Regions from separate parts of the Homo sapiens genome. Here regions 2 and 3 are each linked to region 1. The links come from fine-mapping of genetic effects on gene expression. A gene starts in region 1. Each other region holds a variant in brackets. All regions are shown on one strand. Distances are between the middles of the regions.

Region 1 (8,168 bases):
TGATGGCCGGGTGTGGGGACCCTCGCCTGTAATCCCAGCACTTTGGGAGGCCAAGGAGGGAGGATTGCTTGAGACCAAGAGTTTGAGACCAACCTGGACAACATAGTGAGACCCTGTCTCTACAAAAAAATTTTTTAAAAATTAGCCAGGAATGGTGGCATGTGCCTGTAGACCCAGCTACTCAGTAGACTAAGGTGGGAGGATCGCTTGAGCCTAGGAGGTTGAGGCTGTAGTGAACTGTGAAACAACAACCAATGTGGCTACGTAATGAAATGGGGCTGGGCGGGGTGGCTCATGCCTGTAATCCCAGTACTTTGGGAGGCTGAAATGGGCAGATCACTTGAGCCCCAGAGTTCAAAACCAGCCTGAGCAATGTGGTAAAACACCATCTGTACAAAAAATACAAAAACTTGTTGGGGGTGGTGGTGCGTCTGTAGTCCCAGCTACTGGGGAGGTGGGAGGATTGCTTGAGCCCATGAGTTTGAGGCTGCAGTGAGCTATGATCACACCACTGCACTCCAGCCTAGGTGACAGAGTGAGACCTTGTCTCAAACAAAAAAATTTTAAATTTAAAAAAGATAAAAGAATGAATTGGCTGACTCTCAATCCACTGAGGGGTCAGGGATGGATGTTAAACATCCTCTACAGCTCATCTCATTGAGAAACTCTACACAGAAGATCCCTGAGAAACCTGCCGATGCCCACAAGCCCCAGCAACCCACCACCCCAAGTCACAGGTGGCCACGGAACCTCACTTGCACATGTCCCATTGTGGCAGCTGCTCCGGGATGTTGAGGGCCTTCCGCACGTACGGGTTGTTGAGGTAGGTGGAAGCAGCTGTTGTGTTGGTGCAGGGGGGGTCCATGCGCACTTTATCCCCTGAGCGCAGCAGTGCCTGGAAGGCACAGACAGTGGGTCAGGGCCTCTGCTTCCCTGCCCCTCCCCCTGCCCCCACCTCACCAGGAGGAAGCCCACGCCCTCGCACACCTGATGCCACATCCGCTTGAGTGGCAGGCGAGTGAAGATGTTGCCCAAATCCTGGACCACAACAGTGTCCTTCTCATACCTGCAATGTGAGGTGGGGGAATGGGTGTGGAGCCTCCAGATGGGGCTGGGGTTGGCTCCAGGGGCACCCAGCAGCACCTACCTAAAATGGCTGGGCACCCCTCCAGCACACGGGGCATAGAGATTGTAGATGTTGAGGCCAGAGTTGCCCACGATGCGGGCCACTTCCTGAAGCTGCAATGATACACCAAGCCACCATGCTTTACAGATCCCCAGCCTCTCCACGACCCCACCAAGTTGTCCCAAGATTTACTGCTCTTGGATTTCACCTCTTCACCCACTTTTTTTCACAGGTAGGGAAACTGAGGCTCAGTGGCAGGAATCTTCCCAGACCTGGGTCCAAATCCTAGCATCACTGCCTCCCAACACTGTGACTTCAGACAGTGATTTCAAAATTCATAGCCCTCAGTTTCCTTATCTGGAAAATGTGGGTAGTATGATCTCATTTGAGGGGGAATCTTGAAGCTTAAATAATCTACATAGACACAGTTCAGCACAGTGCCTGCCACGTTGCAGGTGTTTGATAAATGTGAAGAAGTCCTTTCTCCTCACGGAGGTTATGGGATTTGCCACCATAGGAGGTGGTGGTGGGAATACACACTTAGACACATGTCCCAGAGAACACTAAATTGCTTAAAGGTGCAAGAAAGCAATGAGGGACGGAGAACAAGGAGTCCCCAAGGAGGGAATGTGGTCCTGTTCTCAGGATTAGGGATGGGAGAGCTCATGCAAAGTGATGGCAGAACCTCACATTGGTCACGCATTCCAGGTCTTTGTTGTCATAGAAGTTACACTTGTTTTGAGAGCAGCAGTGGGTCTGGAGAGAAGACCAAAGCCTGTAGGAGATGAGAGTGAAAAGCGCATCAGCTGCTGGTGGGAAGAGGAAGGCAGAGGAGGCGAGCATACCCCCCACCTCCCACCAACCTCCCTGACCCTAGGAGACTGGGAAAGATATCACAGGGTGTGGTCTGTATGTCATCTAAGCTAGCTCCCAAAGAGGTGCCCCAGGGTCATACAGACAGGCCTCCTTAGTTCCTTTAAAATCTGATTTCTGGCTGGGCGCTGTAGCTCATGCCTGTAATCCCAGCACTTTGGGAAGATCATTTGAGGCCAGGAGTTCAAGTCCAGCCTGGCCAACACAGCAAAACCCCATCTCTACTAAAAATACAAAAAATTAGGCAGGTGTGGTGGTACGCGCCTGTAGTCCCAGCTGCCTGGGAGTCTGAGGCATGAGAATTGCTTGAACCTGGGAGGTGGAGGTTGCAGTGAGCTAAGATCGTGCCACTGCACTCCAGCCTGGGTGACAAAGTAAGAATCTGTCTCAAAAAAAAAAAAAAGAAAGAAAGAAAAACTGATCTCTATTCTTTGGCCTTTCAGCACTAGGTTCTTTCTGCAACCCACCTGCTGCTCATAAACCTGGGCTGGGCCTGTCATATCATGTGCCTGGAGGACAGACCTGAGATCATGTGACCTGCCTCACCCCAGAGATTGCCCAACTGCCCTATCCCATACCTGTTCCCCAGAAGGCCATGGTAGTAGGCAAAGTAGACCAGGGAGTTGTCATTCTGCTCATAGGAGGAGAGTCCATTGCCCACAGCCAGCCCCTGTGAAACACCCAGGGTGCTCAGCTCATGTGGAGGGCAAAAAGGAAGAGCCTCCCTCACCCTACCACCCAGACCTTCAGCAATCCGGAAGCTGAAACCCAGGGTGGTTTATGTAGGCCGGTGGGTATGAGAGGCCACTCAATGCAAAACACAGAGCTGGCAGCCTGACAGGTGAGTTTCCTGTGTGGGAGGCACACAGACAGACCTAGGGCAGCCGGTGGTGGGGAGGTTATGCAGGAAGCTGGGTTGGATGGGGACATTGACCAGTCAGTCTGACCTTGCTAACTGTAAGGCCACAGCCTCAAGCTACCTCCCTTCCCTCCTGCAGCTACCCTGCACCTGAAGGTTCATGCTGGGATCCTGCATGACCAGCACGGCCAGGGTGGGGATGTAGATGCCAGCATAGCTCTCCCCGGTCAGGAAAAGTTTGTTGTTCTTGTACTCCGGAAAGAGGCGGAAGAAATCTTGAAGGGCCTCAAAATTGCTCTGGGCGACCTGGGGATGGCAGAGCAAGACAGAGGGAATCAGGAAGCTTTGGTATTTGAACTGGAAAGAACTTCAGAGATAATGACATTAACCCACCCTATTTGTGCAAGAGGAAGTGACTGGCCACCATACCACAATAGCATATGACAGAGCGAAAAGTAGACTCCAAGGCCATGCTCTCTCTCCCAGCATCATGCCATGGATGGAGGACCGGGGAGCCTGGGGCAGATGGGCAGGCACCAGACTCACCTCAGTGTCATTAGTTGCATAAAACTTGTCATCGGAGTAGGAGAAGCCCACCCCAGCTGGGGACTCCAGGTATAACACATTGGCAATCTAGAGGGGAGGGAAAAATTAGCTAAATGCCACCCCATCCAAGTGCCCAGACACACCCACAGCTCCAGCTATACCAGATTCCAAGAATAGGGGTTGTACTCCAGGGTGACACCATCTGGCTGGACCTGAGGAGGAAAGAGATGGCTGAGTAAGTCCCAAGGGCCAGCTGGGTGGAGGGAAAGGGCCACCATGAGAGGCACTTTACATGTGGGTAAAACCTCTGAGAGGTACAGGCAGCAAAGCCAATGGCATAGAGGAAAATCCCGAGGCTTAGAAGGAAGGAAACTTTTTGGAAAATCACAAAGCCCCTCTCTCGCTTTCCCCAGCCTTTTACTTTGGGAACTGTGCTTTCCCCCTGCTGTCCACTCACCAGGAAGGGGCCATGCTCTGTGAGGAGCCCATCTAGTGAGCTGCAGCCGGGACCCCCATTGAGCCAAAGCACCACAGGGCTGTTCTCGGGATCCTTCTGGGACTCCACAAACCTGGGAGGGGGGTCAGGGCAGGGTTGGCGCAGTTGGAGGGGCCCTTTCCAGCCCTCCCGGCTCCCAGGCATCCTCAGGGGTCTGCAGAACTACCCCCCATCCCTCATCCGTCATCTCTTCTCCCAATCCCGCCCAGAAGGCAGGGCGGCAGACCAGTAGTGGAGGTGCTTGGAGCCGGAGCCTTTGAGGTAGCCGGAGTACTGGCGGAAAGACGGCTGCTTGGCCAGCCCGGGGAGGCGCTGGATCTCGTCCTGGTCGGGGGCTGCCTCGCCTCGGGACGCCCAGGACACTAGCAGCAGCAGCAGCAGCAGCAGCAGGAACAGCGGCGGCGGCGCGGCTCGGATCATCTACGGGAGGCAGCAGAGGGGCTGTTGACTCGCTCCTCAGCGCTTCCGTGCAGCAGCCCCCGGGGAGTTGCTGGCGGCGCCTCCGCGAGGGAAGCCCCGGCCCCAGCGCCAGCTCCCACCCGCGAGCCTCCTCTGCCGCGCACCGATCCCGGGCTCGGGGATCCCCTCCAGCCTCCGGTGCCAGCTCACCTCTGCTCCCCCGCGTCCTTGCTCTCCAGGAGGCGCCCGGGGACTGGAAGTCATGTGTACGAGTCACGTGAACTCCGGCGCCACGTGACAGTCTTCCTCCCGCCCCTTCTTTGGTCCCTACGGACCTGGGGGGCGGTGGCGGTCAATGCCGGGTCAAGGTCCGCGGGCCTCGCAGATCGTAGCCCGGGCGCACGCGATCAGATGATCCTGTTGTGGACGGCTAAGTTGTAGGCGGGATGGCTGAGAAAGCGGCGCTAGGACCCCCGGGCAGAGGCTCGGGGAAGGGAGTCAGGGGGGAAATGCCTTACAAGGTCGCCTTGCGGTCACCATCATTGCCCGCCGCCCAAAATAGCCCCCGGCGCCAGCTGGCCTGCCCTATGGCCGAGAGATGGCTGCTGCCTCCGAGCCCGTGGATTCGGGTGCACTCTGGGGACTCGAGCGCCCGGAGCCCCCTCCCACCCGCTTCCATCGGGTGCACGGTGCCAACATCCGCGTGGACCCCTCTGGGACGCGGGCCACACGCGTGGAGAGCTTCGCCCACGGCGTGTGCTTCAGCCGCGAGCCGCTGGCCCCGGGCCAGGTCTTCCTGGTCGAGATCGAGGAGAAAGAGCTGGGCTGGTGCGGACATCTGCGTCTCGGTCTGACCGCGCTGGACCCCGCCAGTCTGGCCCCCGTTCCCGAGTTTTCTCTGCCCGATCTGGTCAACCTGGGCCACACCTGGGTCTTCGCCATCACGCGCCACCACAACCGCGTGCCCCGGGAGGGCCGCCCGGAGGCGGAGGCAGCGGCCCCCAGCCGACCTCCAACCCTCCTCGTGGAACCATATCTGCGCATTGAGCAGTTTCGCATTCCCCGGGACCGCCTGGTGGGCCGCAGCCGGCCAGGGCTCTACAGCCATCTCTTGGACCAGCTCTATGAGCTGAACGTGCTGCCTCCGACCGCGCGCCGTAGCCGCCTGGGTGTCCTCTTTTGCCCGCGCCCCGATGGCACGGCCGACATGCACATCATCATCAACGGCGAGGACATGGGCCCGAGCGCCCGGGGACTGCCAGCTGCGCAGCCCCTCTACGCGGTGGTGGACGTGTTTGCTTCCACAAAGAGCGTGCGCCTTGTCCAGCTCGAGTATGGCTGTAGGTATCCCTGGGCAGCGACCCCTCCTGGCTCAGTGTGGGGACTGGAATCTACTAGGGCTCCGTAGCCCATGTGCTAGGCCTTCGTCTGTCCGGCACTAGTTTAAGAGTGGGAGAATCTAGCTTCAAATTGCACCTCTGCTTGTGATCTTGCACAAGCCTCTACATGGTTTTGGGCCTTGGTACCTATCTTGGTTGATTGATTAAGATGCCCTACAAGTTCCCTTTTAGTTTTGATAGTGTTTCCTGTATTCACCTAGGGCAGGGATTCTAAACCAATTTTAGATATTAGGGGCCTCTTTGAGAATTGTTTGCCCTTTTCTTAGAAACATGCTTGGCCGGGCACAGTGGCTCACACCTGTAATCCCAGCACTTTGGGAGGGGGAGGCAGGCAGATCACTTGAGGCCAGGAGTTCGAGACCAGCCTGGCCAACATGGTGAAAGCCTGTCTCTACTAAAAATACAAAAAGTAGCTGGGTGTGGTGGCATGTGCCAATAATCCCAGCTATTCAGAAGGCTGAGGCAGGAGAGTCACTTGAACCCGAGAGGTGGAGGTTGCAATGAGCCGAGATCTCACCAGTGCACTCCAGCCTAGGCAACAGAGCAAGACTCTGAAAAAAAAAAGAAAGAGAGAGAGAGAGGAAGAGAGAGAAAGCAAGCAAGCAAGCAAGCTAGCTAGCTCAAGCCTGGGCAACAAAGTGAGACCCCATCTGTACAAAAAATTAAATAATTATCTGGGCATGGTGGTGCATGCCTGTAGTCCCAGCTATTTGGGAGGCTAAGGCAGGAGGATCGCTTGAGCCCAAGAATTGAAGGCTGCAGTTCACTGAGCACTGCACTTCAGCCTGGGTGACAGAGCAAGACCCTCTCTCTTTAAATAAAAAAAAAAAAAGAAAGAAAAGAAAGAAACATGCTCATAGACTTGGGCATATTGGCTATTGGCTTCGAGGCATAACAAACCCCAGACTGAGAGCTTCTTAATGCTGAGTATGATTCATTATAGCCCTGGTAAGCATTGCAGTTATACCTCTCATCACATTTCATGAACTCAATGCACCAGAACCCTCTTTGTGCCAGGCCTGTGCTGGAGGCTTCAGTTGCACAGGCAAATCAGACACTACCCCTGCCCCCAGAAGCTGCTAAGTGAATGGGGAAGGGATTGTGCTAAGTGTTATGATATAAACAGGGCTGCAGCTTTGTGGCAGCTCTCAGGAAGAGGTGCTTCTCTCAGCCCCATGAAGCAGGCTGGGCCCAGAGAGCAGTAAGGACTTGCCCACATTTAATGACAAAGTGGGGACCATGACCTAGACCTTCTGGATCTTGGCCTCAGACCCACCCTCCAGTTCAGTTTGCCTTTCACAGTCTTCTTCCCACAGTGCCATCCCTGCAGACTCTGTGCCGCCTAGTGATACAAAGGAGCATGGTGCACCGGCTGGCCATTGATGGGCTCCACCTGCCCAAAGAACTTAAGGATTTCTGCAAGTATGAGTGAAGACCCACAGTGCACCAGAGCACAGCTGCATCCTGGAGCCCCAGACCTGTGGCTGGCTGGTCCGAAGTTGGCCACATTGCTGCCAGCCAAGACCAGAAATAAACAGCCGATGCTGACATCTTGATCACTGGAAGGTCTCCTTGCCCCTACAGCCTATGAGAGTCACTTCGTTTAGAATCACTGCAGGTCAGCAGGTCGGAGCAAAAGAGCAGGGGTCCCTAGGCTGGCTGCTTGTTAGAGTCATCTTAGGATATGTAAAGAGTGCTGGTGTCCCACATCCCATCCCTAGGGATTCGTATTTGATTTGTTGGGAAATTAGGCCTAGACATTGTGTTTTGTAAAAGCTTCTCAAGAGATTCTCATGTACAGCCAGGGTTGAGAAGTATGTCCCTAGAAAAAAGGTTCCAACTTTGTCATATATTATAATCACTTGAGGAATTTTGAAAAATACCAATACCTGGCCTGTAATCCCAGCACTTTGGGAGGCCGAGGTGGGCAGATCACTTGAGGTCAGGAGTTTGAGACCAGCCTGGCCAACATGGTGAAACCCTGTCTCTACTAAAAATACAAAAGTTAGCCAGGTGTGGTGGCAGGTTCCTGTAGTCCCAGCTACTCGGGAGGCTGAGGCAGGAGAATTGCATGAACCCAGGAGGCAGAGGTTGCAGTGAGCTGAGGTCTTGCTCCTGCACTCCAGCCTTCCAGTCATGGCGACAAAGTGAGACTCTGTCTCAAAAAAAGAAAAAGAAAAATACCAATACTGGGTCTGACCCGAAGTCTTACTCTACAAGGCACGAAGCACTTGGCTCCTGTGTTTCCATCTCTGGTCATCTGCTTCCATACAAATGATCTCATTTCATCCTCAAAACTCCTAATGAGGTAGTGGGCAGTCATCAGACACACTTTACAGATAAGGATATCAAGGAACAAAACTATCTGGGTGACTCGTTCAAGGTTAGGGCAAGAACCTAGAACACCCAGCTCCTGGTCTGGTGCTCTTTTAACCTCATCCTATTGTCATGTCCAGGTTCTAGAATGAA
Region 2 (8,176 bases), 180 kb after region 1:
CTGGTCTCAAACTCCTGACCTCATGATCTGCCTGCCTTGGCCTCCCAAAGTGCTGGGATTACAGGCATGAGCCACTGTGCCCAGCCCCTATTCTTTCTTTTTTCAAATTTTATTTTATTGTGGTAAAAGCACTTAACATGAAGTCTACTGTTTTAACATATTTTTAAGTGTATGATACGTTTTTGTTGACTATAGGTACAGTGTTGTATACTAGATCCCTAGAGCTTATTTCTTTTGCTTGACTGAAACTTTATGCCTGTTAATTACTAATTATCCATTTCACCTCCACCCAGGCCCTGGCAACCACTGTTCCACTATTGATTCTATAAATTTGACTATTTTAGATACTTCATATAAGTGGAGTCGTGAAGTATTTATCTTCCTGTGACTGGCTTTTTTCACTTGGCATAATGTCCTCAAGGTTCATCTATGTTGTGACATATTGCAGAATTTCCTTTTTTTAAAAGGCTGAATAGTATTCCATTGTATGCATATACTACATTTCAAAAAAATGTCTTCATCTGTCAACGTACATAAGATTGTTTTCACATCTTGGCTGTTGTGACTAGTGCTGCAATGAACATAGAGGTGCTAAGTGTTAATATCTCTTTGAGATCCTGATTTCAGTAATTTTGAATAAATATTCAAAAGTGGGATTAGTGGATCACATGGTAGTTCAATTTTTAATTTTAAAAGGAACATTCACTCTGTTTTGCATAGTGGCTGCACCATTTTGAATTCCCACTAATGGTGTGCAAGGGTTTCCTTTTCTCCATATCCTTGCCAACACTTATCTTTTGTTTTGATAATAGGCACCTGGCAGGTGTGATGTCATAGCTCATGTGGTTTTGATTTGCATTTTCATAATGATTAATGATGTTGAACATCTTTTCATAGACTTGTTGGCCATTTGTATGTCTTTGAAAAAATGTCTGTTTGGGGACTTTTACTATTTTTTTATTTTTTATTTTTTGTTATTGAGTTGTAGGAGTTCTTTATATATTTTGCATATTAACTGTTATCAAATGTATTTTTTACAAAGATTTTCTCCATTCCATAGGTTGCATTTTCATTTTGTTGATTGTTTCCTTTGCTGTGCAGAAAATGTGGTCTCCCTTATTTGTGTTTTTGTTTCTTGTGCTTTTGGTTTCAAATAAAAAAAAATCATTGTCCAGACCAATGGAACTTTGTCCCTATGTTTTCTTCTAAGAGTTTTACAGTTTCAGGTCTTATGTTTAAGTCTTTAGTCCATTTTGAATTGATTTTTGTGTATGGTGTAAGTTTTCCTAACATCATTTAATGAAGAGATTATCCTTTCCCCATTGTATATTCTTGGTGCCTTTGTTGGAAGTTAGTTGACTGTACGTGCAAGGGTTTAATTCTGGGCTCTCTATTCTGTTTCGTTGCCATATGTGTCTGTTTTTATGCTAGTACCATACTGTTTGGATTACTGTAGTTTGCAATATAGTTTAAAATCATGACGTGTGATGCTTCCAGCTTTGTCCTTTTTGCTCAGAATTTCTTTAGCTATTCAGTGTCTTTTGTGGCTCACATGAATTTTAGGATTGTTTTTTCTATTTCTGTGAAAATATCTTTGGAATTTTGTTAGAGATTGCATTGAATCTGTGGAGTAATTTAAGCATTATGAACATTTTAACAATATTAATTTCTCCAACTCATGAACATGGGATATCTTTTCATTTTTTGTGTGTCATCTATACTTTCTTTTATCAATATTCTATAGTTTTTAGTGTACAGATCCTTCACCTCTTTGGTTATATTTACTCCTATTTTATTCTTTTTGATGCTATTGTAAATGGGATTATTTTTCTTGATTTCTTTTATGGATAGTTTGTAGTTAGTGTAGAGAAATTCAACTAATTTTTGTATATTGATGATTTTATCCTGCACTTTTATTGAATTTATTAATTCTAACAGTTATTTTTGTTATCAAGTCTTTAGAGTTTTGTATACATAAGATGCTATCTGTAAACAGAGACAATTTTCCTATTGGAAAATTTCCTGTTGGATGCCTTTTATTTGTTCTTCTTGCCTAATCTTTCTGGATAGGATTTCAAGTATTTTGTTGAATAGAAGCGGTGAGAGTAGGCATCCTTGTCTTATTCCTGATCTTAGAGGCAAAGCTTTCAGCTTTTCATCATTGAGTATGATGTTAGCTATGGGCTTGTTATACATGGCCTTTGTTATATAGAGATACGTGGCTTGTATACCTAATTCGTTGAGAGCTTTTATTATGAAAAAAATGTTGAATTTTTCTCAAGTGCTTTTTCTTTCTTTCTTTCTTTTTTTTTCTTTTGGAGACAAAGTTTTACTCTTTCATCCAGGCTGGAGTGAAGTAGCATGATCTCGGCTCACTGCAACATCCACCCCCTGGATTCAAGCAATTCCCCTGCCTCAATATTTTAGCATTTTATCCTTTCTCATCTCATTAAAAGGTACTTACTTATTGAGCTCCTGCTATATTTCAGTAACTATTCTCAATGTTGGGTATATAGAAATGAATTAAAGTTTTGTCCTCAAAAGTTGTATACGAGTCTTGGCTGCAAGGCTGGGAAGCAGAACCCATGAACAAACAAGATTTCACCTTCAAAATTGTAAATTCCATTCCTAACACAGCCAAACCCACCTTTCCCAGCAAACCTAAAATTATGTTGGATTGTTGACTAAGCACTTATAGGAGGCAGTGACAGAGTACAAGAGTGCTCTCCAAAGGGCCATAGTCTTCATATTTATCTTCTTCCCAGGTGACAGCAAGAAAAAGTGACTCTTTTTTCATTGTGTCTCCCAAGTATCCTTATTGACTTGGTATAGCCCCTACTGAACTACTGATCTTTCACCATCTCTGCTGGGATGGACTGAGAAGAGAACTCCCAGCAAGAATTTGCAAGATATCCATAAGCATTGTTATTTTTTGAACAGTTTTATTCTGGCTTCATTGTGGCCAAATTCTTGTCTCTTAGCTTTTCATCTTTATTCACTCCCCTGGGGAAGAGTTGGACCTATCTATTAGAGCATCTTTTCCAAGATTCCCCATGCCTGTCACTTGTTCTTAATAAACTAAATAAACTCATGATTGGCTGAAACATCCCTTCAAGATTTCATCCTGGAGGGTCAGCCTGTCCTGTGTGGTTGTGTGTCAGGTACTTTCCAGTCCAGCCATGTTCCCTTCAAAGCAAGTTGATACTGCTGAGTTACTGGTTATTTAATTAAGCCTCCCAACCACCAGACTACAATCAAGAACTTAGTATCACAAATTACGTAAGGTAAGTGGTGTTATCTCTATTTTAAGCATGAAAAATTCAAGTTTTGAAGAATTTAGATGATGTGCCATAGTAGCACAACTATGGTTAAGTGAGAAGTCATGGTGTATAGATTATATTCACTGATGAAGGGGTGAAAATCCATTTTTCTTCTTCCTTAATGCCATTCCTTATATCTCACCCTTTGCAGTAAGTCCTCAAAATGTTAACAATAATCATAACCATTCATATTTCTGTCACAGTGCGTACAACATATTTTTATGCATATTATATTGTTTAATCTTTTTGTACAGTCTTGTGAAAATGAAGAACAATTGCTTATGCTGTTTTCCTAATGAGGAACACAAGGCTCACTGGTACAGAGTTGGAAGGAATGGAGGCAAGCAGAGAAAGGCCCAGGCTTTGTGGAGCTTGATGCTTGTATAATTATGGATACCTTGTTTTAGAAAAATAATGCAGAACTACTAATACAAAATTAGACACGTAAGTGAATATTTATTTGAAATGAAAAAGAAATTGCAACAAATTACAAACTTAACAAAAGCTTACGAATATATCAAATATCATGAATCCCAGGAAAATAACACTTTATTATTATTATTTTAAATACCTTTATAATACCTTTTTAATATTTTATGGCTGATTATTTTTGATTGTCTCTTCTTATGACTATAGTTTTTATATCATTTCTGTAGAGAGAACAGAAGGATAATTCAATCTTTGCTCTAGCATGGTTGATCAAAAATTTAAAGTTATTATTGGTAGTTTAGGAAAGATTATTTCCATTTCCATAACTTATCAGTAATGCCACACTGTCATGTCCTCTGCAGTTTCTGGCTCAGGTGGTGCTACATGCCGGGGGCAAGACCTTGGAGAGTTCTAGCCCTTTGATTTTGATTTCATGGCACCTTATTGCAGCCTCTTAGTCACTGATCCAACTCTATCAGGTCCTCACCACCCCCACTGTGCCTGTCCTGGGTTCATGATATGGCCATGAAGCCTTGAAGGCTGGCCCCAAGGAGGTTGCCATGCAGTGTCTGGTTGATATTTCTCCTTGAGGTTAAATATGGGATCA[A/G]TTAGCCTGATGAGTGCAACCAAGGGCAGGTAATCAGTGAGGGTTGTCCAGATGTTGATGTGGTAGGTCCTTAAGACCACCACCAGGGCACACACAGCATCCCTGGACTGGAACAGTGCTGCTTGTCTCTATGCCAAAGTGGGGTTTCTGATTCCTCTCCTCATCCCAGGAGGAAACTGTGCTGAGCTTTGGAAGGGGCTCTTGCAAGTGTTGACCTAAAGCTTAAGCTTCAAGAGTTTTATGGTAGATTAGCCTTTATTGCCAAACTCAAAAACGATTTGCAGGTTAGATATTGGGCCTCCAGTTTCTTGCTTCTCAATACCTTCCTAAAGGTGGACCAAGAAAAAACATCGTAGAGGCCTGTGGGGAAGGAAAGATAATTAGTCCATTTATTCTTCTTGATTCTTTAAACATCCTTGGACATCATGTTGGGTCTCTAGAGAATTACTGTCATTGAACTGTCTGTTGTCAGGCTATGCTTAGGAACTCCTTAAAGAAATAGCCCCCAAAAACTTTTCCTGGAGTCTAACATGAGGCTGTCATAGAGGGTGTCCTCTGTCATGATCACCTTTAATTAGCCATCATTTTTTAGACATCAGCTTTATGTAGCTTAAAGCAATGCTTTCCATTAGAACTTTCTGTGTTCTGTATTTATAATGTGTAATATGGTAGCTACTAACCACATGTGGTTATTAAACACTTGAAATGGAAAATAAGGCTAAGGAACTGATTGAATATTTTATTTTATTGTAATTCATATGAATTAACATTTAAATAGCCTCTCGTGACCAGTGCCTACAGTATTGGATAGATCAAACTCAGATTATTAAAACAGTGATAGCCAACCTGTATGTAAGAGACCTGCCTCACTCAGGTCAACTCGAACCACATATGGTCAGTTTCTGGTAGTAAAAGAGTCTATAGATTTTTCTGAACAGTATTTCCTGCCCTGGATCAGGGGTCACTAGGTTATGGTAGGCCAAAGATAGGACACTACAAAAGACAAAGAGAGGGACTAATTCTGTCTGGAGTGAACTGGTGAAGTTTCTATGGAGTGTTTAATTTAATAGAAACCTTGAAGCATGAGTGGGAGCTCATCCGCAGCATGGTGGGCTCACCGGAGCCTGGGCAAGTGCTCATGCGTCTAAACTGCTCCACTGGCCTCCACCTGCTACTATTTATCACGCTCCTTTGTACAGGGTTAATAAAAGGACTAAGCTGAAAGACCACCATTCTAATTTGGAACATCTGGAGACATCAGAAGGCCCATTAGAAGACCCTAAACTTCTAACTTTTTCTTTCAAATACTCTGAAACGAAATCCACCAACTTATGAATACTATCATTTTTTTGGTGGTGGAATTCCACAGGACTCCATTTTGTTCACCATTCTTGAAGCATCAGTAAAATAATAAAGATGATTCCCACTCCCTCTTTTTTTTTTTTTGAGACGGAGTCTCACTCTGTCGCCCAGGCTGGAGTGCAATGGTGCACTCTTGGCTCACTGCAACCTCTGCCTCCTGGGTTCAAGCAATTCTCCTGCTTCAGCCTCCTGAGTAGCTGGGATTCCAGGTGTGCACCATCACACCCAACTAATTTTTGTATTTTTAGTAGAGACAGGGTTTCACTCTGTTGGTCAGGCTGGTCTTGAACTCCTGACCTCGTGATCCGTCCACCTTGGCCTCCGAAAGTGCTGGGGTTACAGGTGTGAGTCACCATACCCGGCCCACTCCCTCTTTTTTCAGAGAAAAAACTGGAACCTGAATGAGTGACCTTGTAAGTGAGTTGCTGGCAGTTTCTACCTTTGCAGAGACCAAGTTCTTCCATCTACATGGCCTTGTGTTGTCCTCCCAATACCCCAAGGCATGGATGTTTTCTTCATATTTCACATGAGGGAGGTGACTGTCTCAGAGAGGTACAGTGAGCAGACCAAAGTCTCAGAGCGTGAAGGGCTCAGCTTGAGTCCCTGCCCAGGGTGCTGTCAACCCGGAGGCTAGAAGAGCTTGTTCCTTGACAAAGCCTCAGATCTGAGTGCCCTGGGTTCCCCCTGGGCCATGACTTGGTTCCTTACATTGCTCTGTGTTGCAGAATTCATGCTGGACTGCACCGTGCCTCCCCCAGGGAGTGCAAAGATAGCCCTTGGAGGGGAATGATGGAGGAGGAGGCAATCAGGTAATGAGAGGCCATTCTGAGCTTGTGGGAATGTAGTGCCCCTGGTGAGGCTACAGGAAGAAAGTGAGCATCCCTGGGAATCTCACATGAGGAAGGCGAGACCAAATCCCTGTACTTACAAAATGATCTAGGAAATATGCCTCAGTTGGCAGGCATGATGACTTCTGAGCCCTTGTGTTTGATTCTGTAGAAGAAAAATATTTTCAAATATTAACTAGTGAAGTTTTACTTTTAGAGATATATATTTTTCTTTCAATTACTTCCACCATTAATATTAGACCATGAAGCTCATTTCTCTTGCCATAGGGAAGGCAGAACCTCAAAAAACTCAATGACACCAAAGAGTTATATTTATGCTTCTGCATTCCAATGTAGAGCATTGAAAGATGTGGAATTTAATTGCAAGGGCTAGTCTCTTCAAAGAGAAGTGGTTGCCTAATCCCCAAAATTCACAGCAATTATGTTGGCAAGTAATGTTTTAAAGCTTACATGGATTGTCTATTTTAACCTCACTATTATTGTTCCAGTCTTAAGGATGAGGAAGTTGATGCCCAGAGAGAGGTTAATTAGCTTGTCTAAGATCACTTAAGGTCACTTAGCTAAGAAGCCAGGATTTGAGCCCAGGTGTTTGGCTTTGAGCCCATGCTTAATCACTCTGCACATTATCTCATGCTGGGTATTCTGCTCATGGTAGGGAATACAGCAGGGAACAAGACTGCCAGGCTTCCCTCAAAGGGCTCATTGGTTGAGTCTTCCACTGTGAGTCTTTTGAAATTTCATATGGGCCTTGCAAAGCAGGAAAAAACAAGAGTACTTATTTTACTCATGAGAAAAAGAAAGTAAAAAAGAGGGAATTGTCTTACTCAAGGTCATAGAAAGACATAGTTGCAAGATGGGATTAGAAACCATATGTCTCATCAGCACCCTATGTCCTTTCTCTGCCCTGGGAGCACACTCCATTTAGCAGGCTTGCGGCTAGTGTTAATGTCTGGACAATTAATCAAAACTTCCTTTGGGCTGGATCTCCAGAGCCCAAGAACACTGGTGGCCAAAGGATGGTGTCTTGTGAAAGGAGGGCAAGCAAAAGTGTAGGACAAATTTTGCTTTGGGATTTTGGTTACACCTGCAGGTACAGTGTCCCTGGGATAAGGGTGGATTCTGGGTCGGGGGAAGGTCTGTGGATAAAGGCATTTGTGGGTGTGTTCAGAGAGGCAGAGTCAGAAATTCACGGATATGGTGATGGGATGTGGTGATTGGGAGGGGAGGAGGGCTTTTCTAATCAGGACTTTTATGGAAATTATCCTTGGTCAAGAGAAGGGGCATGTTGGCAACATGGCCACCAAGGAAAAAAAAAAAAAAGGAGAGATCCAGCACAGTTGCTGGTAAGGGACTCTTCTGCTGGGCTCCCACCAGCAGCTCTAGGATCAGACCTGGATATGAGATATCTCTTACCTGTTGCGCTTTTGAAATGTTTCTGATGAACAGACTATCCCACAGAAGGAGGAACAGCACTGAAATCCTTTCTCGCAATCTTCCTGCATTGTACACAGGTGAGTACAGTTTTCAGGTGCTGATATGCAGGGTGGAGGTTCCAAGATATACTCTGGAACACAGAACAAGTAAGAGAAGGGCCTCACCAACAGGCTGGA
Region 3 (8,176 bases), 38 kb after region 1:
TGTTTTTATCCGTTTATGAAAGCCATACTTTGTATTTGGGTTGCTGCAGCTGCTCAAAACAATGGGAGAAACTGCAGTTATAAATTCCAGAAAAGCCTGTGAATGGAGTGAAAGTGGAGTGGGTGGTCAAAAACCAATGGCCGTGGAGGCTTAGCTCTCTTCACAAGGCACACAGCAGGTGCTCAATGAGTGCCTGTTGAATGAATGGCCACGCAGCCCAATGCGTGCCTATGCACCCCTCCTCCTCCAGGCAGCCCTCCGGAGGTCCAGCCTCCTCCCCACCCTCTTGGCCCGCCCCGCCCCGCCCGCCCTTACAGGATGTCTTCGCGGATGGAGGTGCCATGGTTGAGGTTGTGGAAGCGGACGGAGACGCAGTCCCTGAGAATGAAGGAGCACCTGTTCTCCCTTTTGTAGGCGCTGAAGCACTCCTTGAAGTCCTCATAGGTCTTGAAGCAGCTGCCCAGCTCCATGGCCGCCCCCACAACCCACACTAGGGGCTGGTCCCAGCCCGGGCCCAAGATCACACCAGGGGTCAAAGGTCACACTATGAGGGTTTATAGGCAGGCGTGGGCCCAGAATGCCTTAAGGGTCCGCCCCAACTGGGTGGCCTATTCTGGAACTCAGGGAGGAACCCTAGGCCTGACCGGGTTACAAGAGGAAGGGGGTGTATTTGCTATCTGACAGGGGAAATGACACTCAGTCCATATTATCCAGTCCCGAGGTTCCGCCTCCTCAGCGACATATCCAGTCACACACAGGATTCGCAGATTGGCATTCATTTTCTCCAATTGCTAGAGAAAGAGGGCCACAGCCACCAGCGGACTGACAGGAGTCCTGACCAATCATAACCTAGATTCCTCCTTCCCGGGGTCTGCAGGAGACTTCCGGTTACTAGGGCAATCTGCCGGAAGAGTCAGGTTCTGTGTATGTCTCCGCGTCTTCCGCGGAGCGGGTGTGCAGGGCCTGCAGCATTGAACTAGATGTCGTCCCCGCAGGCCCCAGAAGATGGGCAGGGCTGTGGCGACCGCGGCGATCCCCCTGGGGACCTCCGTAGCGTCTTGGTCACGACCGTGCTCAACCTCGAGCCGCTGGACGAGGATCTCTTCAGGTAGCCGGCAGCTCCTGCCCAGCATCCCCTCCTTTAGGGCAGAAACTTGATCTTGACTGCCGCCGCCCGGGGCCCCTGGCTCCGGGACTAGTATGGCTCTGCGTGGGATGCACCCTCTGCCACGATTAGGAGAGAACTCGCCCCCAACAGAGCTGTCCTCTCTGCTCTGGCTTCCTCCCTTCCTCTCCGCGCTGCGAGGTCTGCACAGCTGAGCAAATATAGTGGTGACCTGAGAGACCCTGCTCGGCAGCCTGCCCTAAGCCTTCACGGGGGAGCTAGCCCAGAGAGGGCAGTGATTTGCCCAAGGGCACACAGCTGATGGATCAGCCTTAAAACCGACGCCGCAGCTCCTTGTGTCTTCAGTATCCTTTTCTTCTCACAATATCCCGCCCCCAGTACCATTTGGTGGGTCTGGTTTCTCATTACTTATTCTGAGGCCTAAGCATGTTTTTTTCTTTCCCAGCATCGCTGAAGTTCTTGACTGCAGCAAGGGTTTCTTTCTTTCTTTGAGGCGGAGTCTTGCTCTGTTGCCCAGGCTGGAGTGCAGTGGTGCGATCTCGGCTCAGTGCAACCTCCGCCTCCCGGGTTCAAGCATTTCTCCTGCCTCAGCCTCCTGATTAGCTGGGACATACAGGCGCGCCACAGCCCAGCTAATTTTTTAACTTCTTTTAGTAGAGACGGGGTTTCACCGTGTTGGCCAGGCTGGTCTCGAACTCCTGACCTTGTAATCTGCCCACCTCTGCCAAAGTGCTAGGATTACAGGCATGAGCCACCGCGCCCAGCCCCCTGCAGCAAGGCTTCTAACAGCTTTGACCTCCAAGGCTTCTCCTGGCTTTACTGGAAGTTATCTTACTTTGAGCTCCCTTCCTTCCACTTAAGGAATTGTAAATAACTTCTTGGAGGGCTATTTGATTTTTGTTTTTGAAGACAAGATCTGGCCCTGTTGTCCAGGCTGGAGTGCAGTGGCACGAACATGGCTCACTGCAACCTCGACCTCCTGGGCCCAAGTGACCCTTCTGCCTCAGTCTCCCGTTTAGCTGGGACCATAAGCGCTTGCCACCACATCCAGCTAACTTTTTTATTTTTAGTAGACATGAGGCCCCACTTTGGAGCCCAGGCTGGTTTTGAACTCATGGGCTCAGGCGATCCTCCCACCTCGGCTTCCCAAAGTGCTGGGATTGATTACAGGCGAGAGCCACCTGCCAGGTCATGGAGGGCTGTTCATAACTCATTGTTACAGAAAATGCCAAACAGCTGGGACGTGGGAGGCTAGAGACATAATTATTCAGCTTCCAATGGGCCTACATTCTGGGCAAGCATTTTCATCTCTGGGGCCAAGCTGCAGTTTTCTCATCTGTACACTGAAGGAGTTAGACTTGATGTCTGAGGGCTCTTGTTATTTATTCATTTATACATTTATTTAATTTTATTTTTTGAGATGGAGTCTTGCTCTGTCACCCAGGCTGGAGTGCAGTGGTGCGATCTTGGCTCACCTCAACCTCTGCCTCCTGGGTTCAAGTGATTCTCCTGCCTCAGCCTCCTGAGTAGCTGGGATTACAGGTGCATGCCACCACGTCCAGCTAATTTTTGTATTTTTAGTAGAGATGGAGTTTCACCATGTTGGCCAGGCTGCTCTTGAACTCCTGATCTCAAATGATCCACCTGCCTCGGCCTCCCAAAGTGCTGGGATTACAGATGTAAGCCACTGCGCCCGGCCCAGAGGATTTTTATGCATAAGGATATTTGCCTGGGGAAAGGACCTATGGCTTTTACCATATTCTCAAAAGGATCTTAAACCCCAATATGGTGAAGAGATCATGCATTAGAGTCTTAGTGAGGGTAGTAGAATTTGGCCCAGTTCCCAAGTCTTTCCCTCTTTCCCCCTCTCCCTACAGAGGAAGGCATTACTGGGTACCGGCCAAGAGGCTGTTTGGTGGTCAGATCGTGGGCCAGGCCCTGGTGGCTGCAGCCAAGTCTGTGAGTGAAGACGTCCACGTGCACTCCCTGCACTGCTACTTTGTTCGGGCAGGTAAACCCCCCACTTCCTGCCCCAACCCAACCCTGGTGGCCCAGCAGCCATTTCTGGCCTTGGGGGCTGAGGTCAAAAGGGAAGAGAGGGAGACTGGAAGACAAGGGGAGGGGTGGCGGACACTACCACCCTAAGAGGTGTCTAGGGTGGAACGAGGTCTGGGGCTAACAATGAGCCTTGGACCTCACACCTGCTGGGACTCACTGGGTACCTGATGTCTGGCTGATAATGACACAAGACTTTGTTGCTTAACTGCTCCTTGTGGGCTTTTGTTCTTCCATTCTTAACATAGCTCCTGGTGCGGAGCGCTGTGCTAGGTTCTCAGTGTGCTGTGACCTCTGTGCTAGAGGTGTGGAGGTAGGGCAGCTTGGGTTGGAGAAGAGAGCACCAGCCTGAGAGTCAAGGGATCTAAGGCTTCTTTTGTCAACTGAGCATAGGGTCAATAAAAACAAACCAAAGATGTAGGGCCTAGCTTCAGTTTTGTCCATAATTTACCATGCAGCCTTGTGAGGTTACCTCCCCGCCCTACAGTTTGGTTTACTTCAGCTGTAAAATGGAGAAGGGTGGGACCAAGGGTATTTTAGTGGGATGATCTCTACAGCTTCTTACAGCTCTGGGGTCAGATAATGTAACTTAAAACCTATGTGTGAGGCCGGGCGCGGTGGCTCACGCCTGTAATCCCAGCACTTTGGAGGCCAAGGCGGGCGGATCACGAGGTCAGGAGATCGGGACCATCCTAGCTAACACGGTGAAACCCCGTCTCTACTAAAAATATAAAAAAATTAGCCAGGTGTGGTGGTGGGTGCCTGTAGTCCCAGCTACTCGGGAGGCTGAGGCAGGAGAATGGTGTGAACCCGGAAGGCGGAGCTTGCAGTGAGCCAAGATCGTGCCACTGCACTCCAGCCTGGGCGAGCACTCCAGCCTGGGCAACAGAGCGAGACTCTGTCTCAAAAACAAAAAACCTATGTGTGGTGGCTCATGCCTATAATCCCCGCACATTGGGAGGCCAATGCGGAGAATTGTTGGAACCCAGGAATTCAAGACCAGCCAGGGCAATAAATCGAGACCTTGTCTCTACAAAAAAATAAATAAAAGGAAAATAAAAGCAAAACCTATGCTAAAAAACAAACAAAAAAA[AC/C]CCTCACTGTTTTCTTTCCTTCCCTGTTACCCCCAGAGCAGATGCCCTCATGTGTTCTGCGTAGATCCCCAGCTGAGAAGAGTTTGTGGACCTTTACAGTATGTGATTTGTATTAAGAAAACCATGGGGTTTCCCCCTTCATTTTGTAAATATGAAAGTTATCCCTGTAATGGTAAATACACTTTTTCATACTGTCCCGTGTCTCTTACTCCTCATCCCTGAGGAGTATTGATTGGCCCCCCTCTTCTCGGCCCCCAGTCACTGCTATAAAGTATTTGAATACTTACCTTGGGCTCAGCCAGGTTCTTATCTTTATGCTAGTTGGGAGTAAATATGTGCTTTGTTTCTTTAATTTGTTTGTAAGTACCAGCCTTTTGATATTGTAATCCTTCCAGCCTAGTGAAATACCTGGCTGTTTTCTTTTGTGTGGGTGGGGGCATTACTTGAACTCTGAATCTCTTCATCCTGTGATGGAAGAATTCAATGAGTCTTTGCCAGTAAAGTATCTAGTGCAGGGCTTGGCATAATCTAGTTTTCCATAAATATTATTAGTTTTTGATGATTAACTTATGGGAATAATTAAAATTTGCATGATACAGAGCATAGTTGTGTGCATTATCTTGTTTAGTCTTCATAAGTAAACATGGGTGGCAGGCATTCCTGCCATCATTCTTACCTAAGGAAACTGGGACCTGAAGAGGTTTGGAACCAGCTCCCACAGTGCCCAAGGAGGCAGAGCCAGGATTTGAACCTGGTTTATGTGTCTTTGAGTGCCAAACTCTTTCCTGCTTCTTTGCTTCGCTCTTGGGCAATAATTCTAAACAATGAGAGAGCTGCCAGGGTACCCATCCCAGGTTCTGGGGAAAAGATCCTCTTTCTTGGAAAGTCTTCATCCAGGAGCAGCGTGAAATGAGCTGTGTCCAAGCCACCATTTCAAAATAAATAATTATTTGGCCGGGCGTGGTGGCTCATGCCTGTAATCCTAGCACTTTGGGAAGCCGAGGCGGGCGGATCACCTGAGCTCAGGAGTTCGAGACCAGCCTGGGCAACATGGTGAAACCCAGTCTCTACTAAAATACTAAAAATTAGCCAGGCATGGCGGCATGTGCCTGTAGTCCCAGCTACTCAGGAGGCTGAGGTAGGAGAATTGCTTGAACTCAGGAGGCGGAGGTTGCAGTGAGCTGAGATCATGCTACTGTACTCCAGCCTGGGCGACAGAGCGAGACTCTTGTCTCCATCAAAAATAAATAAATAAATAAAAATAATTATTTGTGCCCTTGCTTGTGTCTTGAAAGGCTGCAAGATAGCTAAAATAATTGGTAGTTATTATGGGAATATTAAAAGTCAAAGGACATTAGGCCAGTAGTAATGGGATTTGGGAGAAGCGATCATGTCAAAAAATTTGGCTAAGCCATATTGTTGCAGTTTCATACAAGGTTTAGTTCTGAGCTTCCTGGCTGCAAGGCAAAAAGGGGAGAGCTCTTATCTGTTTGTGGTGTGACTCTGCCAGCTATATCAGATATTAAAACCAATGCTGTTTTTTGGCTGGGCATGTGGCTTATGCCTGTAATCCCAGGACTTTGGGAGGCCGAGGCGGGCAGATCGGCTGAGGTCAAGAGTTCGAGACCAGCCTGGACAATGTGGCGAAACTCCATCTCTACTAAAAAAAAAAAACACACACAAAAATTAGCCAGGTGTGGTGGTGCACACCTGTAGTCCTAGCTACTCAGGAGGCTGAGTCAGGAGAATCGCTTGAACCCTGGAGGTGGAGGTTGCAGTGAGCTGAGATCGTGCTACTGTACTCCAGCCTGGGTGACAGAGCAAGACTCCATCTAAAAAAAAAAAGGAAAATTAGCTGGGCGTGGTGACCTTAGCCCGTGATCCCAGCTACTCGGGAGGCTGAGGCTGAGGCTGAGGCAAGGAGAATTGCTTGAACCCGGCGGCTGGAGGTCGCAGTGAGCTAAAACTGCGCCACTGCACTCCCACCTGGGCGACAGATCGAGACTCCATCTCAAAAAAACAAAACAAAAAAGAGATGTTTCAATTACATTTTAAAAATAAAAGATGTTATGGGGGAGGGGGAGGGTTGGTCCTTGGCCATTTATCAAATCAGTTCTTTTTCTAAAAGCCCAGGAAAGAATGTGAATTAGTTGGGTTTTTGTTTTGTTTTTAGTTTTTCTCTACAGAGGTAAATTTAGAGCTTGAAGAATTCAGAACAAGGTCAGCAAACATTCTAGAAAGGGCCAGATAGTAAACATTTTAGGTTTTGCCAGTGAAAGCAACTATAGACAATATGTAAACAAATTAGCATGACTTTATTACAAAAAAATTGTATTTTAAGGCAACAGTTTCCTCATCTGTACAATGGGGGTAAGAGTGGCTCTACATAGTTATTGTGAGACCAACATGAGAAAACATACCCTCCTGTCCAATGCTGTCAGGCACCCTGCATCACTCCATAATCATTAACTCCCTTCAATATGCCTCAGGGCCTACCTGCTCTGTTCCAATAACAATTTTCAAGAATAGGGCTGGAACTCATTCACACTGAAAGGTAGACCAGAGTACTGAAGTTTCTGTGATCCTCCTCAGGAATCTGCACTTTAGCTTACCTGCAGACCAAGGATTGGATTAGAGGTTTTTTTTTGTTTTTTCCCCCCAAGTTTGGTGGTAGGGAGGAAGACTTCATTCCCAGTGTCTGAAAGCAGACTGCACAAGTAACTTTGTCTAGTGTCTGGACTCTTGGTAAGCCCTTCTCAAATGCCTTTAACCTTGAGGAGCTCGCACTCTGATAGAAGTGCTGCTGGTGGCAGTGCCTGATAACAGAGAGCTGAGCAAGCCAGTTGACCTCAGACAGTGATGTTTATTGCTGTTGATTGAGCCCTGGTGCCTGGTTGACTCCCCATTTGGATCAGAGTGAAGGAAGCAACACTTCTCTAGACCTGCTTCTTTCATCTGAAGGTTGAAAGTCATCCCCAAGATGTCTCATGGCCCAGATGTCAGGGTTCCTCAAGGTCAGCCTGACTCAGACAAAGTGAGAACTTCAGGGAAACCAGGGAAGTTCTCTTCCTCTCCAAATCTTCCCTCACCTGCTTGTTGTTGGCTGCCTTATCCCTGGCCAGTGCCTTCTACTCTGGTGGTGGTGGTCTTGTTGTTTTTGAGACAAGGTCTTGCTCTGTCACCTAGGCTGGAGCACAGTGACGCAGTCATGGCTCACTGCAGCCTTGATCTCCTGGCCTCAAGTGATCCTTCCGCCTCAGCCTCTTGATTAGCTGGGACTATAGGCACATGCCACCATGTCCAGCTAATTTTTATTTTTTATTTTTTGTAGAAACAGGGTCTCCCTGTGTTGCCTAGGCTCTTCCACTCTGCTTTGGAGCAGAGACACCTGACAGTGAAGGACCAAATGGCTTCCATATACATCAGGGGTGAAGTGACTGACAGTGGCCCTTGCCTGGGAGAGGCTGAATATACAAACAGACAATGGCTAGACCATGTAGAAAAACAGAACTCTGACGCACAATAGCAGCAACCAGCACAGGAAGCCAGCCTACTATCCACAAGTCAGACTTGTAGGAAGTCAGACCACTATCTTTACCAACCAGTCCAGCAAGCCAAATAATGACCACTGTAACAATTGGCCTCCAAAGCCAGGACTTGATTAATAACTGATAGCTGCCCTAATTTTTGCCCCTGCTTCCAACTTAGGACCAACCGGAGAAAGCCAAATATGTACTCCTAACCAATCACATAGGATGTCCCACTCTTTTTTGAGACAGAGTTTCACTCTTGTTCCCCAGGCTGGAGTGCAGTGGTGCAATTTCGGCTCACTGCAGCCTCCACCTCCCAGGTTCAAGCAGTTCTCCTGCCATAGCCTCCACCTCCCAGCTTCAAGCAATTC

Evidence for each region. PIP is the estimated chance that this variant, and not a neighbour inherited with it, causes the effect.
Region 2: its variant is fine-mapped to the expression of CTSA in whole blood (TOPMed, PIP above 0.99).
Region 3: its variant is fine-mapped to the expression of CTSA in whole blood (TOPMed, PIP 0.97).

The regions. Positions count from the first base shown.
Region 1 is chr20:45,887,721-45,895,888 of GRCh38, reverse strand. CTSA (cathepsin A) reads right to left here and starts at 4,554. Exons shown (of 15, transcript NM_000308.4): 1 at 4,510-4,554; 2 at 4,127-4,320; 3 at 3,862-3,973; 4 at 3,566-3,616; 5 at 3,405-3,491; 6 at 3,009-3,164; 7 at 2,578-2,669; 8 at 1,817-1,901; 9 at 1,148-1,239; 10 at 988-1,066; 11 at 756-895. The coding sequence starts at 4,320. NEURL2 (neuralized E3 ubiquitin protein ligase 2) reads left to right here and starts at 4,681. Exons shown (of 2, transcript NM_080749.4): 1 at 4,681-5,639; 2 at 7,016-7,255. The coding sequence starts at 4,898. The coding sequence ends at 7,131. It also overlaps a transcript of SPATA25 not described here. RefSeq lists enhancers at 4,218-4,267, 4,507-5,216 and a silencer at 4,308-4,577.
Region 2 is chr20:45,704,398-45,712,573 of GRCh38, reverse strand. WFDC10B (WAP four-disulfide core domain 10B) reads left to right here and starts at 7,555. Exons shown (of 4, transcript NM_172006.2): 1 at 7,555-7,656; 2 at 8,013-8,077. WFDC13 (WAP four-disulfide core domain 13) reads right to left here. Exons shown (of 4, transcript NM_172005.2): 2 at 7,980-8,130; 3 at 6,647-6,711; 4 at 3,757-4,716. The coding sequence ends at 6,669. MIR3617 (microRNA 3617) reads left to right here and starts at 7,394; the gene lies at 7,394-7,472. The variant A/G (reference allele first, on the strand shown) is at 4,357.
Region 3 is chr20:45,850,120-45,858,295 of GRCh38, reverse strand. It overlaps ACOT8 (acyl-CoA thioesterase 8), which reads left to right and starts at 904. Exons shown (of 6, transcript NM_005469.4): 1 at 904-1,108; 2 at 3,004-3,137. The coding sequence starts at 981. It overlaps ZSWIM3 (zinc finger SWIM-type containing 3), which reads right to left and starts at 682. Exons shown (of 2, transcript NM_080752.4): 1 at 316-682. The coding sequence starts at 470. RefSeq lists enhancers at 3,041-3,570, 3,571-4,100, 4,101-4,630. The variant AC/C (reference allele first, on the strand shown) is at 4,275.